Linked DNA regions of Homo sapiens: regions 1 and 3 are each linked to region 2. The links come from fine-mapping of genetic effects on plasma protein levels. A gene starts in region 2. Each other region holds a variant in brackets. All regions are shown on one strand. Distances are from middle to middle. Region 1 overlaps MATN2 (matrilin 2). Region 2 holds the start of MATN2 (matrilin 2). Region 3 overlaps MATN2 (matrilin 2).

The links. PIP is the posterior inclusion probability: the model's chance that the variant is causal. Protein levels are from antibody-based Olink assays in UK Biobank. Linkage for the fine-mapping came from a reference panel and not from the study's own genotypes, which makes the PIPs less certain.
Region 1: its variant is fine-mapped to the plasma level of the MATN2 protein (UK Biobank, PIP above 0.99). The variant lies in the coding sequence of MATN2. If it changes the protein, the assay may bind it differently, which can mimic a change of level.
Region 3: its variant is fine-mapped to the plasma level of the MATN2 protein (UK Biobank, PIP above 0.99).

What each region holds. Positions count from the first base shown.
Region 1 is chr8:97,976,685-97,981,908 of GRCh38, reverse strand. MATN2 (matrilin 2) reads right to left here. Exons shown (of 19, transcript NM_002380.5): 6 at 2,901-3,023. Among named protein-coding and RNA genes, the nearest start is that of SNORA72, 63 kb to the left of the region's middle. RefSeq lists an enhancer at 1,718-1,767. The variant T/C (reference allele first, on the strand shown) is at 2,916.
Region 2 is chr8:97,866,563-97,871,786 of GRCh38, reverse strand. MATN2 (matrilin 2) reads right to left here and starts at 2,723. Exons shown (of 19, transcript NM_002380.5): 1 at 2,500-2,723. RefSeq lists an enhancer at 3,123-3,622.
Region 3 is chr8:97,889,582-97,894,805 of GRCh38, reverse strand. The region is part of intron 2 of MATN2 (matrilin 2); the gene reads right to left. Among named protein-coding and RNA genes, the nearest start is that of MATN2, 23 kb to the right of the region's middle. The variant A/G (reference allele first, on the strand shown) is at 2,119.

The sequences.
Region 1 (5,224 bases), 110 kb before region 2:
CCCACTATGCTGCGGTATCTACTTCCAGGGTCTGATTCCAGGGCTCCAACACCCTCCTTGCCTGCACCACCCTGGGCTGGGGATCTGGGACAGGAGGCATGCTGAGCCACAGGGTGGGGAAGATGGTGCCACTCTGGGAACTAGGGCTGGTGCTGGGGTGGAAATCAGGTGACCCCAGCCAGTGTGTGCAGTCTGGAGAGGCAGGTAGGAGACTGGCTAGGATATGTGTTTTTCTCCAGTCCTCATCCCTGCAAGGCAGCATCTCACCTGTTCTGGTCTAACTGGTCTCCTTCCTCTAACTCCTGCTGTGGTCCTGGCTGCATCACACTGTAGGCCCTTGGTCACATAACTCCTGGCACCATGACTCAGCTACTCAGTGTGGCTATGGCTAAGGTCCCTCACCAGCTTGCAGTGGAAATCTTGAATGTTTTTTGCACCTTTAAATGTAGCCCAGGCACGTGGTATATGCACAGTTAAATACTCATTTTTTTAGAGTTTTGGAGGCCAGGTGTGGTGGCTCATGATGACCATAATTCCAGCACTTTGGGAGGCTGAGGTGGGAGGATTGCTTGAGCCCAGGAGTTGGAAGCTGCAATGAGCTAGGATTGCACCACTGCATTCCAGCATGGGTGACAGAGTAAGATCCTATTTCTAAAAAAACATAATGATAATAAATAAAGTCTTTGAAACCCACATCATCCCTTTTTAGCCTTTTTTTTTTTTTAAGACAAGGTCTTACTGTGTCCTCCAGGCTGGAGTGCAGTGGTGCCATCATGGCTCACTACAGCCCCAACCTCCCAGGCCCAACTAGTGATCTTCCCACCTGAGCCTCCCAAGTAGCTGGGAGTACAGACACTTGTCACCATACCTGGCTAATTAAAAAAAAAACAGTTTTTGTAGAAATAGGGTCCCTCCATATTACCAGGGCTGGTCTCAAACTCCTGGGCTCAAGTAATCCTCCTGCTTCTCTTCCCAAAGTGCTGGGATTACAGGCGTGAGCCACTGTGCCCAGCCTCATTTAGTATTCAAGATTATGCTATGGCCGGGTGCTGTGGCTCATGCCTGTATTCCCAGCACTTTGGGAGGCTGAGGTGGGTGGATCACTTGAGGTCAGGGATTCGACACCAGCCTGGCTAATATGGTGAAACACCACTGCTATCAAAAAATACCAAAAAAATTAGCTGGGTGTGTTGGTGCGAGCCTGTAGTCTCAGCCACTTGGGAGGCTGAGGTGGGGGAATCGCTTGAACCCAGGAGGTGGAGGTTGCAGTGAGCCGAGATCACATCACTGCTCTCCAGCCTGGGTGACAGAGTAAGACCCAGTGTCAAAAAAAAAAAAAAAAAAAAAAAAGGAAAGAATAATGCTATGCAGTAGGCAGCATTATCATCCTGTACTGTAACTGAGGAAACTGAGGCATAAGTAACTTGCCCAAGATCACCAAGAGAAAAAGCAGAGAAGCTGGGATTAGAACCAAGGCCCGCTGCTGGCAGCCCACGGCCTCCTCTTTGATGAGGAACACTGACTCATCAGCCCAACAACCACAACTCCCCAACCACGACGACAGCACAGGCTGCTATTTTACAGTTCAGAATATTCAGAAGGGAAGGGAGACCACAAACACAGCAGCCCACTCATTCATTTACTTACTCTTTCAATAAACAAAACAAATAAACCACTGTATATGCCAGTCATGCACGGGGCATGGAGACTACAGTTCTCTGCTTGGTTCACATCTTCAACTTCTTTCCTTCTCCTGGAACCCCCACCTCACCCTTTTCTGCCTAGTGAATGACAGCTCCACCTCCAAGACTCAGCCACAGTTATCTTCTCCCTTAAGGACCTTGCCGTACTCATTTCTATTGGCACATGGTTGGGGCTCCAGAAATGTATGCTTTTGACCTAATGTGTCCCTTATAGTTCCATACATCACCCAAACCTCCAGCTCTGGTGTTTGTAAGCTGCTGATATTTAGGTATTGAAGAGTAGGAAGTAAGTTTATGTTGAAAAAGGTTTTGTGCAGATGTATCCTGTTTTACATAGTGAATACATTTTAGAAAGGTTGTAGGTACATGAACTTTTTATGAATTAAAATCCTGTTTTCTCACTGATGCATGTCTCTGAGGTGCCTTACCCTATTCTAGATTGTTATTAAAGTCCACTTTTTATAAATGCTTGGCCCTAATACTTAACAAGCAAGCTTTTCTCAAGTGATCCTCCCTATAGAAGGATAATAATCCATACACAATCCCTTAAGTCTCCTGATGTACCTTTATATTTAATAGAACACTTTTGGAATCTTTTTGTAACTAGTTATTATCTTTTTTGCAAAACTAATGATCATCTTTAGTTTATCGAATTTTATGTTCAAATTTTGGGAGCTGAAATTAATTCTGATTTTTATGTATACAGTTAAAATCCAATTGAACTAAATAGCTCAAACAAAACATGAGCAGTTCTTTGCAAACTGCGGTCCACCAGAAGAAATCACTTATGATTCTTTTTGGCTCAGCGATTTTCTTGCGTGGAGTCAGAGCTAAAGCCCACAAGCCACAAAGCTTCAATGAAAACATCTCAAGCCCTGTTAGTGCTGATGGGCACAGTCAGGCTGAGTTAGCAGGAAGTAAGTTGCTCGGATTGTCAGCATGCTCAGCAGATGCTGAAGGAACAGTCCTACACATGGTGCCTTCATCATATTCCTTGAATAGTGATGTTGAGATACAGTGGTCTATGGTCTTAAGCCAAGTCATGAAAGTCCTGACAGAGGAGGAATGGGGCAAAAGGTATTAGACCCCCATGACATAATTATATTGCTAATCTATACTTGAGAGAGTTCCATGGTCACAGTCACCACAGCAGTAACAGCAAATATTTCTCTGTGTGTGCATGTGTGTGTAACTTACTTGTGCACGTTTTTT[T/C]ATCTGGGTTAAGAGCAAATCCTTCATGGCACTGGCAAAGGTAGGAGCCATCAGCATTTACACACTCATGTTCACATCCGTGGTTTTCTGAGGCACAGTAGTCCACAGCTGGAGAGAATAAAACACATTCAGAATTAGAAATGCAAACAGAGGAAAAGGGAATGGTAGGATGAGGGCAAAATGATAACAGATATTAATTAGGATTAATATTATTGCCCCCCAAAAGAGTAGGATAAACAGTTATGAACCCAAGGTCTCTGCCCCCCTCAAAAAAAATCAGGAGTCTATATCAGGCAATTCATATAGGAAGATATAGGAAGTAAACTAAAGAACATGTGAACAATTGTATTTAAAAGTTAAAGAATTGCAAATCAAAATCATCACAAGGTGCACTTACACCTAGTAAACTGGCAAAAATAAGATGAGATAAAACCCAGTGGTAGAAAGGCAGCAGCGTTATTAATGGTAGGGGCATTATAAATTGAGAAAGATCCTTTTGGAAGGCAATTTGACAATGTTCACCCTGGACGTGAAACCCAAAGAAATAGCCAGGAAAAGGGTGAAATTATATACAATAAACTATTAATAGCATTGTTTACAACAACAACAAAAAATCCTAGAAAATAAGATGAACATTGAATAAGGGTAAATGATTTAACAATGTATGAGAAAATACACTGGCTGATTTTTCATTAGTTCCACAAATGTGTTCCTGTGTTCCACAAATATTTCATTTGTTTCATTAGTTCCACAAATATGTGTTCATTACACAAATATGTGTAATGAACAAAAATGTATTCATTAGTTCCTGAGTACCTACTACGGGCCAGGTCCTGTTTTAGGTGCTAGGGATAGAACAAGTAAGAAAATAATCCAAAATTCCAGCCCCCAAGGAGCGTATATTTGGATAATGATGCTGGGAGTGGGGAGCAGATAAGAAGTAAAATAAGTAAATAGCATAGTCTATTAGGAGATAAAGAAAATTCTGGAGAAAAGCAAAACAATGAATAGGAGTAGGGTCAGTGGGGGAGTGGGTAGCAGGTGGGATGTAATAGAGGTGGTCAGGAGAGGCCTCTCTGAGAAGGTGGGTGGTTAGGAAGAGTGTTGACTAAAATACGAGCCGTGAGGATATCTGGGAGAGGGTATCTTGGGCAAAACAAACAGCAAGTGCGAAGGCCAGGAGGTGGGACTCTGCCTGGTGGGCTGGAGGATCAGCAAAGAGGCCAGGGTGGCTGGAGGAGGGAGAGAGGTGGGAGATGAGAAGGGGGCAGTCAGGAGGGACCCATGGGCCATGCAAGGACCTCAGCTTTTAGTCTGAATGAGTTGGGAGTCACTGCAGGGTTCTGGACCCATGAGTCAAGAATAGACTGACAGGGCAAATCTGAGAGTAGAAAACCAGTAAGAAAGTGACTCCAGTAATCCCAGGGAGGAAGGGTGGAGGCTTAAACCAGGATGTTGCAGGGGATGAGGGGGAGTGGTGTTCTGGAAGTTATGGGTTGAATTATGTCCCCTAAAAAGACATGTTGGAGTCCTAAACCCTGGTACCTACGAATGTGGCCTTATTTGGAAATAGGGTCTTTGCAGAAGTAACCAAGTTAAAATGTGCTTATTAGGGTGGCGTGCTCTAATTCAATATGACTGGTGTTCTTATAAGAAGAGATCTGTCCCTACGACCCAAACACTTTCCAGCAGGTCCCACCTCCAACATTGGGAATCAAATTTCTTGTCTTTTTTTTTTTTTTTTTTTTTTTTTTTTTTGAGACAGGGTCTCACTTTGTCTCCCAGGCTGGAGTGCAGTGGCACCACCTCTGCTCACTGCAGCCTCAACCTCCTGGGTTCAAGTGATCCTCCTGCCTCAGCCATCCAAGTAGCTGGGACTACAGGTGTGCGCCACCACATCTGGCTAATTTTTATATTTTTAGTAGGAACGGGGTTTCACCATGTGGGCCAGGCTGGCCTCAACCTTCTGAGCTCAAGAGATCCACTGGCCTCAGCCTCCTCCCAAAGTGCTGGGATTACAGGCATGAGCCACCGTGCCTGGCCACAGAGGTCAAATTTCAACACGAGACTTGGTGAAGCCAAACAAACCATATCCAAACCACAGCATAGCTCTAGCAAACTAATACACCTGGTAAATACTGAAGGTGGGGCTAACAGGATTCCTGTTGGATTAGAGGTGAAATGAGAAAAAGAGAGTGCACCTAGGGTCAACTCTGGGGTTGACAGAGCAAGACCCTGTCTCAAAAAAAAAAAAGTTTTTGGAAATCCCAGCTACTTGGGAGACTGAGGCAGGGCAATCATTTGAGCTC
Region 2 (5,224 bases):
TTCAGGCAGTATTGGCTGTCTGCCGAGCCACATGGCAGGGTTCAAGGATGGCCTCATGGGCTGAAGCTCCAAGTGGCAAGTGGCCCCTTGGAAGGACCTCCCTGGCACCATTCACTAGCAACAGCAATGACATTCCCCATTCTCCCCTTGGCATATGCTCAGCCTCCCTCTTTCCCTGGCCCTCCTGAGTTATCTTGCCATATGCTTTAAACAGGGGAGTCCTCCATAGCTTCCCTAGAAGACGGGGAATCCCTGGAAGGGACGCTCCTGCAGGTGCTACAGATCAGAGGGCAGTGAGTGCCAGGGGCAGCACTAGAGGCTCTCTGCCAACTTGACTGGTCTTAAACCACTCACCTCTCCTACTGCTTGCCCAGCCTCATACCCAACACCTTGCTCAGGCCAGCGTTAGACCTGTCACACCCTCTTCGGCCTGCTTTTCCTGAGGCCTAAGCCGGTCTCTCCCCCTTTTAGTCTCCCCACCTCACTCCTTGCCCTCTCTTAGGTGCCAGTCAGAACTGTTTCTAAATAAACTGTAGAATTATTTTTCCAGAACCTCCAATGGCTCTCTTATTTCAAAGAGCAAACATCTCTCCTTTTCTTTAAATCTCAGGCCACACTTTTAACTACCTTTTGCTAAACAAGGACATATGGCACTCGCTGATAAGAGCTTAGGGCATGACAGCTGCTCGAGGGTGTTTCAGATTTGGACTCTGCTCTGACACCTCCAACAAGCAAGCTTAGGCCTTGGTGGCCCTGGGTTGCCTGGGAACAAGAAACCCCAGAGCCCCGATTTATAGAAGACAGTGTCCTGGTAACTCGGGGGCCTGAGATTGAATTCTATTGGCAGAAATAAAAGTAAAAAGTGTGGACAGATAGGAAAATGCAAGGTGAAGAGCCATAAGTATCTCATTCTCCACAGAGGATTCTAAGTGCCAAGTTTCAGGGACTGAGAGGAAACATTCCAGGTCATAAACCCATGTTGGTATTTTGACATGGTTTTATGAGGTTGGCCCTTTGGGAGCAAGCAGGGAGAACTGCGCCCGTGTGGACTCCTGCATGGAACTACCAGTTGCATACACGTGGCTTATCTGCCACCCTCACGTACCCATGGAGAGCCTCTCTTTCTGAACTGGGGAAGAGGTACATTCACTGCTCATAGCAGCTCCTTGCTATTTCTGCAAAGACAAGCCATGGAACTCACCTAATCTTAGAATGCTCCTGGAAATGTTCTAAGGACTTTACTTGCCATATCTTTTTTTTTTTCTTTTGAGACGGAGTTTAGCTCTTGTTGCCCAGGCTGGAGTGCAATGGCACCATCTCCGCTCACTGCAATCTCTGCCTCCTGGGTTCAACCGATTCTCCTGCCTCAACCTCCCGAGTAGCTGGGATTACAGGCATGCGCCACCAAGTCCGGCTAATTTTGTATTTTTAGTAGAGACGGGGTTTCTCCATGTTGGTCAGGCTGGTCTCGAACTCCCGACCTCAGGTGATCCGCCCGCCCCGGCTTCCCAAAGTGCTGGGATGACAGCCCTGAGCCACCGTGCCCGGCCGCCATATCTCATTTAATCCTCACAGTTCTGTGGGTATTACCATCCTCATTAGACAGATGAGGAAACTGAGGCATACTTGGGTACCTTCAAGTTATCAACCCTGTAAACTTCACAGCTGGGGTTGAAACCCAAGCAGGCTGACCCCAGTCTCTGCTCTCGACCACGGGTCCCTGAAGTCTCTTGACTGCCCCATTCCTTAAAGGCCGATTTTAAGTGTGCTTGGTGCAGATGCATTGTGGCTTCCTGATTTATGACAAATTGAAACTTGGTCAATTGGGTTTGTTCAGGGTGGGCGCGAGTGTCCCTGAGGAGAGCACTTTCCTGTGCCCCCAGTCCTGGAGACCCTACCAGGGACAGTCCCCATTTCTCTGTCCTCTCCCCAAACGGCTCCAAATTGTTCTGGGGTTTCTAGCAACTACCACAAAATGCCTTCCCCTTTCTCTCCCTCTTCCACAATATAGGGAAGCTGGAGGTTTAGCTGCCATAGAGACCCAAGAACAAAATCCAGATGACACGGGCATGAAAATACCAGGTTCCGAAGAGGGAAGGGGGAGCCATCGGCTGTCCGTGGAATAGGAATCACCCTGCATACCCGCTCAACAGGTCTCCCTTTCCCTGGGTCGCGGTGGCCGGGGTCTGGGCGTCCCCGCTGCGTGCCACAGCGCCCCCACGGGGCACTCCGGGGCGGCTGCAGCGCGGCTTGTCCTGCGCAGGGAGCGCGCCCAGCTCTCCCGGCCGAGGGGTCGGGCAGCGCCGCCCTCCCTCTCCCCCTGTCCTCGGAGGGGTCGAAGGCGCCGGGGCCCCGGGGCGCTGGGGGCTGCAGTGCGGGCCTGGGGAGGGCGCCTGCGCGTCGGGCAGCCCAGGCTCGGTATTCTGTCGGTGGGTCGGTCCGCCTGCACTTCGAGGCCGCCCGGCCGCGCAGAGCCGGGGGAAAGCGCGCCGCGCTCACCTGCAGCCGCCGGCGCCTGGGAAGCGAGGCAGGGGCGCAGCCACCCGGGTCTTCCTCGTCGGCCTCTTCGCCTCGCCGAGGGCCGCGGCTCTCCTCGGGGATCGCTCGTGGGAGGCGAGGACGGAGCCCCAGCTTCTGCCTCTGCCTCTGTCTCCGCCGCCGCCGCTTGCTCCAAGTCCCATCCCAGAGCGCTCCCTTCGCTCGCTGGCTGCCTGGGAGGCGCTGGGCAAGGGCGGGCGGCTGGGGAGGCGGTGCCGCGGCGGGGGTGGGGAGCGGGCCGGGCGGAAGGAGGGGTGTCCTCTTTGGGGATGGGGAAGGCGCGGAGAGGGAGCGGCGGCGAGGGCGGCCCCACCCTGTGGGCAGCCCCGGGAGCTGGGCACTCTGGCGGCGCGCCCTGCCTGCTGCCACCTGGCTCCACTCCGTCCGTGCCTGAGCCCAGGCGGGCATCAGACTCCAGGGGTCCGGAGCCGCAGGCACGGAACACAGGCAGCTTTAGGGGCCTGTCGGGTTGGGAGTGCGGGGAGGGGTCTTCTGGGGGAAAGGAGACATGGCAGGAATCTTACATCTAGAACTTGGGGTCATGACCTGCGGGACGCACCCACTGACGCGGGGATGGAGAAAAAAGTGGTGAGAATTGGGCTAATTGATGACAAGCGCCAAGAGCTGTCTTGCCAGTGCCCAGAGCACCCCACCAGTGCCAGTTCATATTAACAGAGCGTCCACTGGCTGGGGACCAGGCCCCGGGATGGGGAGGAGGTAAAGATGCCAGGATGGAGAGGAGACAAAATTCCTACCCCGAGGGAGCAGGGAAAGTCTAGTTCAGACAAGACTTTTGAAATTATGAGCAGAGACATTTGCAACTTTGCAGAATGGAGGAACCTCACCTTGGATGTCCCCATGGAGCCTTGGAGGGATGCAGAAGACAGGATTGGCCAGCGACAGTCAAAGTGGCCGGCACCCCCCTCTACCAGCTCCCCAGTTCCTGGAGGCTGGGGTGAGTGGATGTATAACAGACCAGGACATCTCCTATAAAGCTCCAAAATTCTGTTCCCAAACCACTAGCCAACGCACCCAGTTCAGGTTTTGTGTTTTTGTTTGTTTGTTTGTTTTTTGAGACGGAGTCGCCCAGGCTGGAGTGCAGTGGCGCAATCTTGGCTTACTGCAAGCTCTGCCTCCCGGATTCACGCCATTCTCCTGCCTCAGAGTAGCTGGGACTACAGGCTCCCGCCACCACGGCCGGCTAATTTTTTTTGTATTTTCAGTAGAGACGGGGTTTCACCGTGTTAGCCAGGATGGTGTCGATCTCCTGACCTCGTGATCCGCCCGCCTCGGCCTCCCAAAGTGCTGGGATTACAGGCGTGAGCCACTGCGCCCGGCCCCAGTTCAGGTTTTAACAAGCTACCAGCAGAGGCAGCAGCACTAACTAGTTTCAAAACCTCTGGATGTGCCACAGTCTGATAATTTGGTGCTTTGGGCGGACTTTGTTTTGTAATTAACCATCATTCCTATTTGATGATAGAGTTGATTTCTGAAATATGAATAAACGCCAAAATCAATTCTTCAGAAAAGCTCCAGGAGGGGTAATTAAAATTCCAGCCATGAAGCAAGGGGTTAACATACTCGAGCCATCAGGCAAGTCAATGATACCTTAATACCAAGAAAGAATTGTGGATTCCTGTTCCTTTACCCAGTACCTTAGGCCCACTGGGCACTCTTGGCTGCCTGCACTGATCACAAATAGTTTTTTTGTTATGTCTTTGGGAGGAGGTAGGTGGAGGTCAGAAAGCAGAGGAAAGTCTTCAGGAAATGTTTGGTCTCTGAAGTCTTGGATCCCATAGAAGAAAATTCTTCCTGAGTCTGGGCCAGTGAAAATCCCCTAGGAACTTGGGAAGTTGAGCTACAGTTTATGGAAACTTAAATTTAAAATGTGTTGACTTATTCCAAGACACCAGTGTGATCCAGTAATTTACCAGGAAAACAATAACAATCCCCAAACCCTTCCAAATTGTAAGGAAATTGTAATTTAGTAACTGATTCCAGTGACTCTGGTGTATGCCAATTAAAATGGGTGTTTTCCCCCCAGGGAGTTCTATTGGAATTCTTCAGAATAGTTAATCTATGTACAAATTACACTTGGGGCCAAGTCAAATAGGTTAAATGAGTTGTTCTACCTTGTGGGATGATCTTCAGGTCTGCCAGAAAAAAATGAAGGAAAAGCAAGTTCAATGTCCTGAAATATAAAGGCAGAACAAACAATGAAATGATTTCTGGGTTACCTTCAGGATGAATTGCAAGTTGATAATTAAGACTATAGATTAGGAAAAGGCCAAAATTGCCTTTTCTGCTAGAGGTCCTGCCATGTGCTAGATGTACAGAGAACCTTATTCAGAAGTGTGGGTTTAAGATTTTTAGTTCTGGGACTGGGCGATGGCTCACACCTGTAATCCCAGCACTTTGGGAGGCTGAGGCGAACTGATCACTTGAGGTCAGGAGTTCTAGACCAGCCTGGTCAACATGGTGAAACCCCGTCTCTACTAAAAATACAAAAGGTAGCCGGGTGTGGTAGTGGGCGCCTATAATCCCAGCTACTCAGGAGGCTATAATCCCAGCAACTCAGGAGAATCGCTTGAACCTGGGAGGCGGAGGTTGCAGTGAGCTGAGATTGTGCCACTGCACTCCAGCCTGGGCAACAAAACTAGAGTCCATCTCAAAAAATAAAAATTAA
Region 3 (5,224 bases), 23 kb before region 2:
CTCCAGGCAGCCAACAACTTCACATTGCTCACTTAGGAGGTTTCAGCTCATTATATGAAACGTATTGCAATTTTATGAATATTTTGATGTCAGGTTTAGAGATACATGCAAAAATGAAAATAAGTGTCTCTTAATACACTGTGATTCCCCAAGAGCAGAATTTGGGGCTGTGTAAGGTGAATTCTGCCAGGAGGAATGGTTCACACTTGTAATCCCAACACTTTGGGAGGCCAAGGCAGGAGGATTGCATAAGGCCAAGAATTTGAAACCAGTCTGTGCAACATAGTAAGACCCTGTCTCTGCAAAAAAATTAAACAATTAGTTGGGCGTGGTAGTACATGACTGTAGTCCCAGTTAGTTGGGAAGCTGACTTGGGAGGATCGCTTGAGCTCAGGCTGCAGTGAGCTATGATAGTGCCACTGCACTCCAGCCTGGGCAACAGAATAAGATCCTGTCTAAAAAAAAAAAAAAAAAAAAAAAAAGGTGAATTCTTAGATTTTCTTCATTAGTTTTTAAGTAGTAAATTAACTGTTATGAGTAAATTTTACTAAATGCTGTGGTGTCTACCCTGGAACACCTCTGGAATTCTTCCAGCAGTGTGTGTGGTGGGGTGTGGGGTGGGAGGGAGCTCAGGCCCTACCATCCCCTGACCAGACTGCAGGGCCAACTTCCTTTTAAATCTTTGTCTCCCACTTCTAGAATTGATGCCATATTGCCACAAAATGCTCTCTTAAAACACAAACATAACTTCTGAGTGTGTAGTATTGATCCAAAGGAGAGTCTATAATAGGAAAAGAAAAGGCTTTCAAGTTTAGTTAGCAGAAATAAAATGAGCCAGTTTGGTAAATTTAGAAAAGAATGCATATGTCAACAAGACCTCATAAGACAGACCACCACCAGAGACCACAAGCTGGCTGACTGTAGAGTAGTTTGTGGAGTGGAGGGAATCAAGAATACACTGGGGGCCGGGTGCGGCGGCTCACGCCAGTAATCCCAGCACTTTGGGAGGCCGAGGCAGGCGGCCAACATGGTGAAACCCTGTCTCTACTAAAAATACAAAAATTAACCGGGCGTGGTGGCAGGCACCTGTAATCCCAGCTACTCTGGAGGCTGAGGCAGGAGAATCACTTGAACCTGGGAGGCGGAGGTTGCAGTGAGCCGAGATCCCACCACTGCACTCCAGCCTGGTGACACAGCAAGACTCTATCATAAATAAATAAATAAATAAATAAATAAATAAATAAGAATACTCTGGGAGTTTGGGCAAGGAGGGTTAAGGTTTCCAAAAAGGCTGATATACCCCACTGGTTGTTCTGGAGACAGGTCCACCTCCTCATAGGAAAGTGGGGTAACAAAGAGAAAAAGTGTGCACAAACGAAGCAGGCGGCCATTAGCAGTGGGGCAGCATGCCTTCCAGTTAGCGCCCCCTTGAGGAGGGCCTAGCGAGGAGTGTGGAAGGGGATGGGTGCCACTGATAAGGCTGGTCAAGGGGAAGAATCCAAGTCCAAAGGGTTCTGGGTACAGCACAGTCAGATTCTCCGACTCTACCTGCCAGCGTTGTGGCCTGGAGGGGTCTTTGGGCTAGAGCAGGTGCTCGTTCCTTCTCCTGTTGCAGCCTGCTATTTAGATCCCTGCTCTTTGCCACAACCCAGGAAGGTCAAGTCTGTCCGGAGAGTACAGTGGGTGCAAAGACAAAGCGACACCCACTGTTGACTGCTTAAAGCCCTCCACAGCTCCTACCCCTGCAAAATGAAGCTCAAAACTCCTTCCTTGGAGCCCTCGAGGTCCTAAATTATTGCTGCCTTATCTCCAGCTCAGACCACCTGTCTGGCAGACCCAGCGCCACATCGGAGCCCCACTGCCACACTCCATCCTCATGCCTCTGCCACCTGCTGTCCCACAGGGCTCTCCGTGGGCAGGACCTTCACTGGGAACAATTCTCTTAAACCAGCCATTCTCAAGTGTAGTTTGGGGAATTCTAGGGGTCCCTGAGGCCTTTTCAGAGGATCCATGAGGTCAGAACTATTTCCATAATAACATGAATGTTTGCCTTTCATACTCTCATTCTCTTGTGGGTATATAGAGAACAAAAAGTTTATTGATCTGATTTTAGATTTC[A/G]CATTGCAACTAAACTTTAAGAAACTACTCTTTGTCAAGTTTTGGTGTAGTATCAAAGAACATTCACAATTATATGAAAAGGCTATTTAAATGCTCTTCCCTTTTCCAACTACATATCCATGCATTTTCATATAATCTAACGAAAACATTTCATGACAGATTGAATGGTCAAGAAATGACAATCTAGCTGTCTTCTACGAAGCCAGACCGTTACAAGATTTGCAAAACTGTAAAACGGTGCTACTCTTCTTTTTTTTTTTTTTTTTTTTTTTGAGACAGGGTCTCACTCTGTCACCCAGGCTGGAGTGCAGTGGCACCATCACGGCTCACTCATGCAGCCTCGACCTCTGGGGCTCAAGTGATCCTGCAGCCTAAGCATTTCAATTAGCTGGGACTATAGGTGTGTACCACCACACCCGGCTAATTTTTTTTTTTCTTTCTTTTTTTTTTTTGAGACAGTTTCACTCTTGTCACCCAGGCTGAAGTGCAGTGGTGTGATCTCGGCTCACTGCAACCTCCGCCTCCCGGGTTCAAGTGATTCTCCTGCCTCAGCCTCCGGAGTAGCTGGGATTACAGGTGCACACCACCAAACCAGGCTAATTTTTGTATTTTTAGTAGAGACAGTTTTTCACCATGTTGGCCAGGCTGGTCTCAAACTCCTGACCTCAAGTGATCTGCCCACCTCAGCCTCCCAAAGTGCTGGGATTACAGGTGTGAGCCACTGTGCACGGCCTCATTTTTTTATTTTTGTAGAGACAAGGTATCCCTATGTTGCCCAGACTGGTCTCAAACTCCTGGGCTCAAGTGATCCTTCCACCTCAGCCTCCCAAAGTACTGGAATTACAGGCATGAGCCACTGCACCTGGCCAGAAAATATAGTTTTTTATACATATATAGTTTGTTAACACATTCTGATTTTATTATTGTTATTTTTAAATTTCTGATCAGGTAGATACCAATAGATCTAACCCACATAAACAAAGCTCCCTTGATTGTCCTCAGGATTCTTAAAAAACAAACAAAAGTTATTTGGGATCCTTAATAATTTTTGGCTGGGCACAGTGGCTCACGCCTAGAATCCCAGCACTTTGGGAGACTGAGGGGGGAGGATCGCTTGAGCCCAGGAGTTCAAGATCAGCCTGGACAACATGGCGAAACCCTGTCTCTACAAAAAATACAAAAATTAGCCAGGCGTAGTGTCATGTGCCTGTAGTCTCAGCTACTTGAGATGCTGAGGTTGGAGGATTGCTTAAGCACAAGAGGTCAAGGCTGCAGCGAGCCATGATCATGCCACTGCACTCCAGCCTGGGAGACAGTGAGACCCTATCTCAAAATAAAATAAAATAAAATAATAAAATAAAAATAATTTTTAGCGTAAAAGGAAGGATCCTGAGACCAAAGCTTGAGAACCACTGCCTTACACTAAGCCTGCTCAGCAGGCAGAGTTGAGCTATAATGTAGCTATGCCTCTACTTTTGCACACCGATTCTACCAAATTAATGATCTTTTCACATGCCTGTCTCTTCCACTACTCTGTGCACCTCCTGATGGTGTCTATTCATCTTAAACACTACCCCCACACCCCCAACCGGCATCTGGCACAGAGTAGAAATTCCAGATAAATGAATGAGGTAAGAGATAAGCCCATGTGGACAGACATCACAGGCTGCCGAGTGAACAGCCCACAGATGTTCACAGGATGGTGGATATATACATGCGTTATTTTTTCAAACTGACTCAAGTTGTTACTGAGACTCTGACCTGAATTTAAACATAAAAGATAAACATTTTTAAAACCCAGAAAGTTCAAAAAAAATTAACCTAAGAAACAATTCTGCTGTTTCTACTCTGTTAAACTTTCAGGAACATACTTGCAAGCAAATAACCAGTAAAATCCATCATGCCAGTGGATGCCATAACTTCAGCCAAAATGATTTGCCATTAAAAAGTGAAATGTGGCCTGGGCCATATTCTGAACAAATAGTCCAAGAGCCAAGAGAAGCAAACATGCATAAAATACAAAACACTACATTATTCTAAGAATGAAGAGAAGGTCATACCCTCGGGGCAAGGACTACCAATGAGCATGCTTTTCCATTTTTGTTCCCCATCAAAATGAGAAAAAAAAAAGCAGATTGCACTTGAGAATCCAGGCCACAGCTATAGTGTTTGCTTTCTGGTTTCATGATTGTCACTCCACTATTTTCTTTTTTTTTTTTTTTTGAGACAGAGTCTCACTCTGTCACCCAGGCTAGAGTGCAGTGGCACGATCTTAGCTCACTGCAACCTCCACTTCCTGGGTTCAAGCGATTCTCCTGCCTCAGCCTCCCGAGTAGCTGGGATTACAGGCACCCGCCACCATGCCCAGCTAATTTTTGTATTTTTAGTAGAGACAGGGTTTCACCATGTTGGTCAGGCTGGTCTCGAACTCCTGACCTTGTGATCCGCCCACCTCGGCCTCCCAAAGTGCTGGGATTGCAGGTGTGAGCCACCATGTCCGGCCCACTCCACCATTTTCATAAGCCAAGCAGCCCTCCAGCATATCTGGGAGCAGCCACTTGCACAGCTCACGGAGTGAAAACACCCATGCCCACTTCCAGTCTTGGGGTGGGAAAGATAGGTTGTGCCCCATCCTCCTCTTTGTCTCTGACACATTCTCTTGAAAAATGAGAAGAAGGAATCAATGCTGGATGCAGGGTTGGTGCCTTTAGCAAAATGGGCTTCTAGGCAAAGGAGGACGACAGTGAATGCTGACAACCAGGGAAGGTGGGGGTGATGTGGTCTGTGTGTGTGTATCAGAGGGAGGAAGGGAGGGAGAGAGAGACTTGGAGCCTAGAGAAGCAGTGTGCTTTTCCAGGCAAGTGTGTGGTGGCTTTTCCTGAGACCAGCCCCATCAGAAACCCAACTGGGCAGTTACTGCTGGTGATCCAGAAATCAGGTATCTTGGCCATGCGTAGTGGCTCATGTCTGTAATCCCAGCACTTTGGGAGGTCGAGATGGCAGATCACTCGAGGCCAAGAGTTTGAGACCAGCCTGGCCAACATGGCAAAACCCCATCTCTACTAAAAATACAAAAATTAGCTGAGCGTGGTGTTGTGCCCCTGTA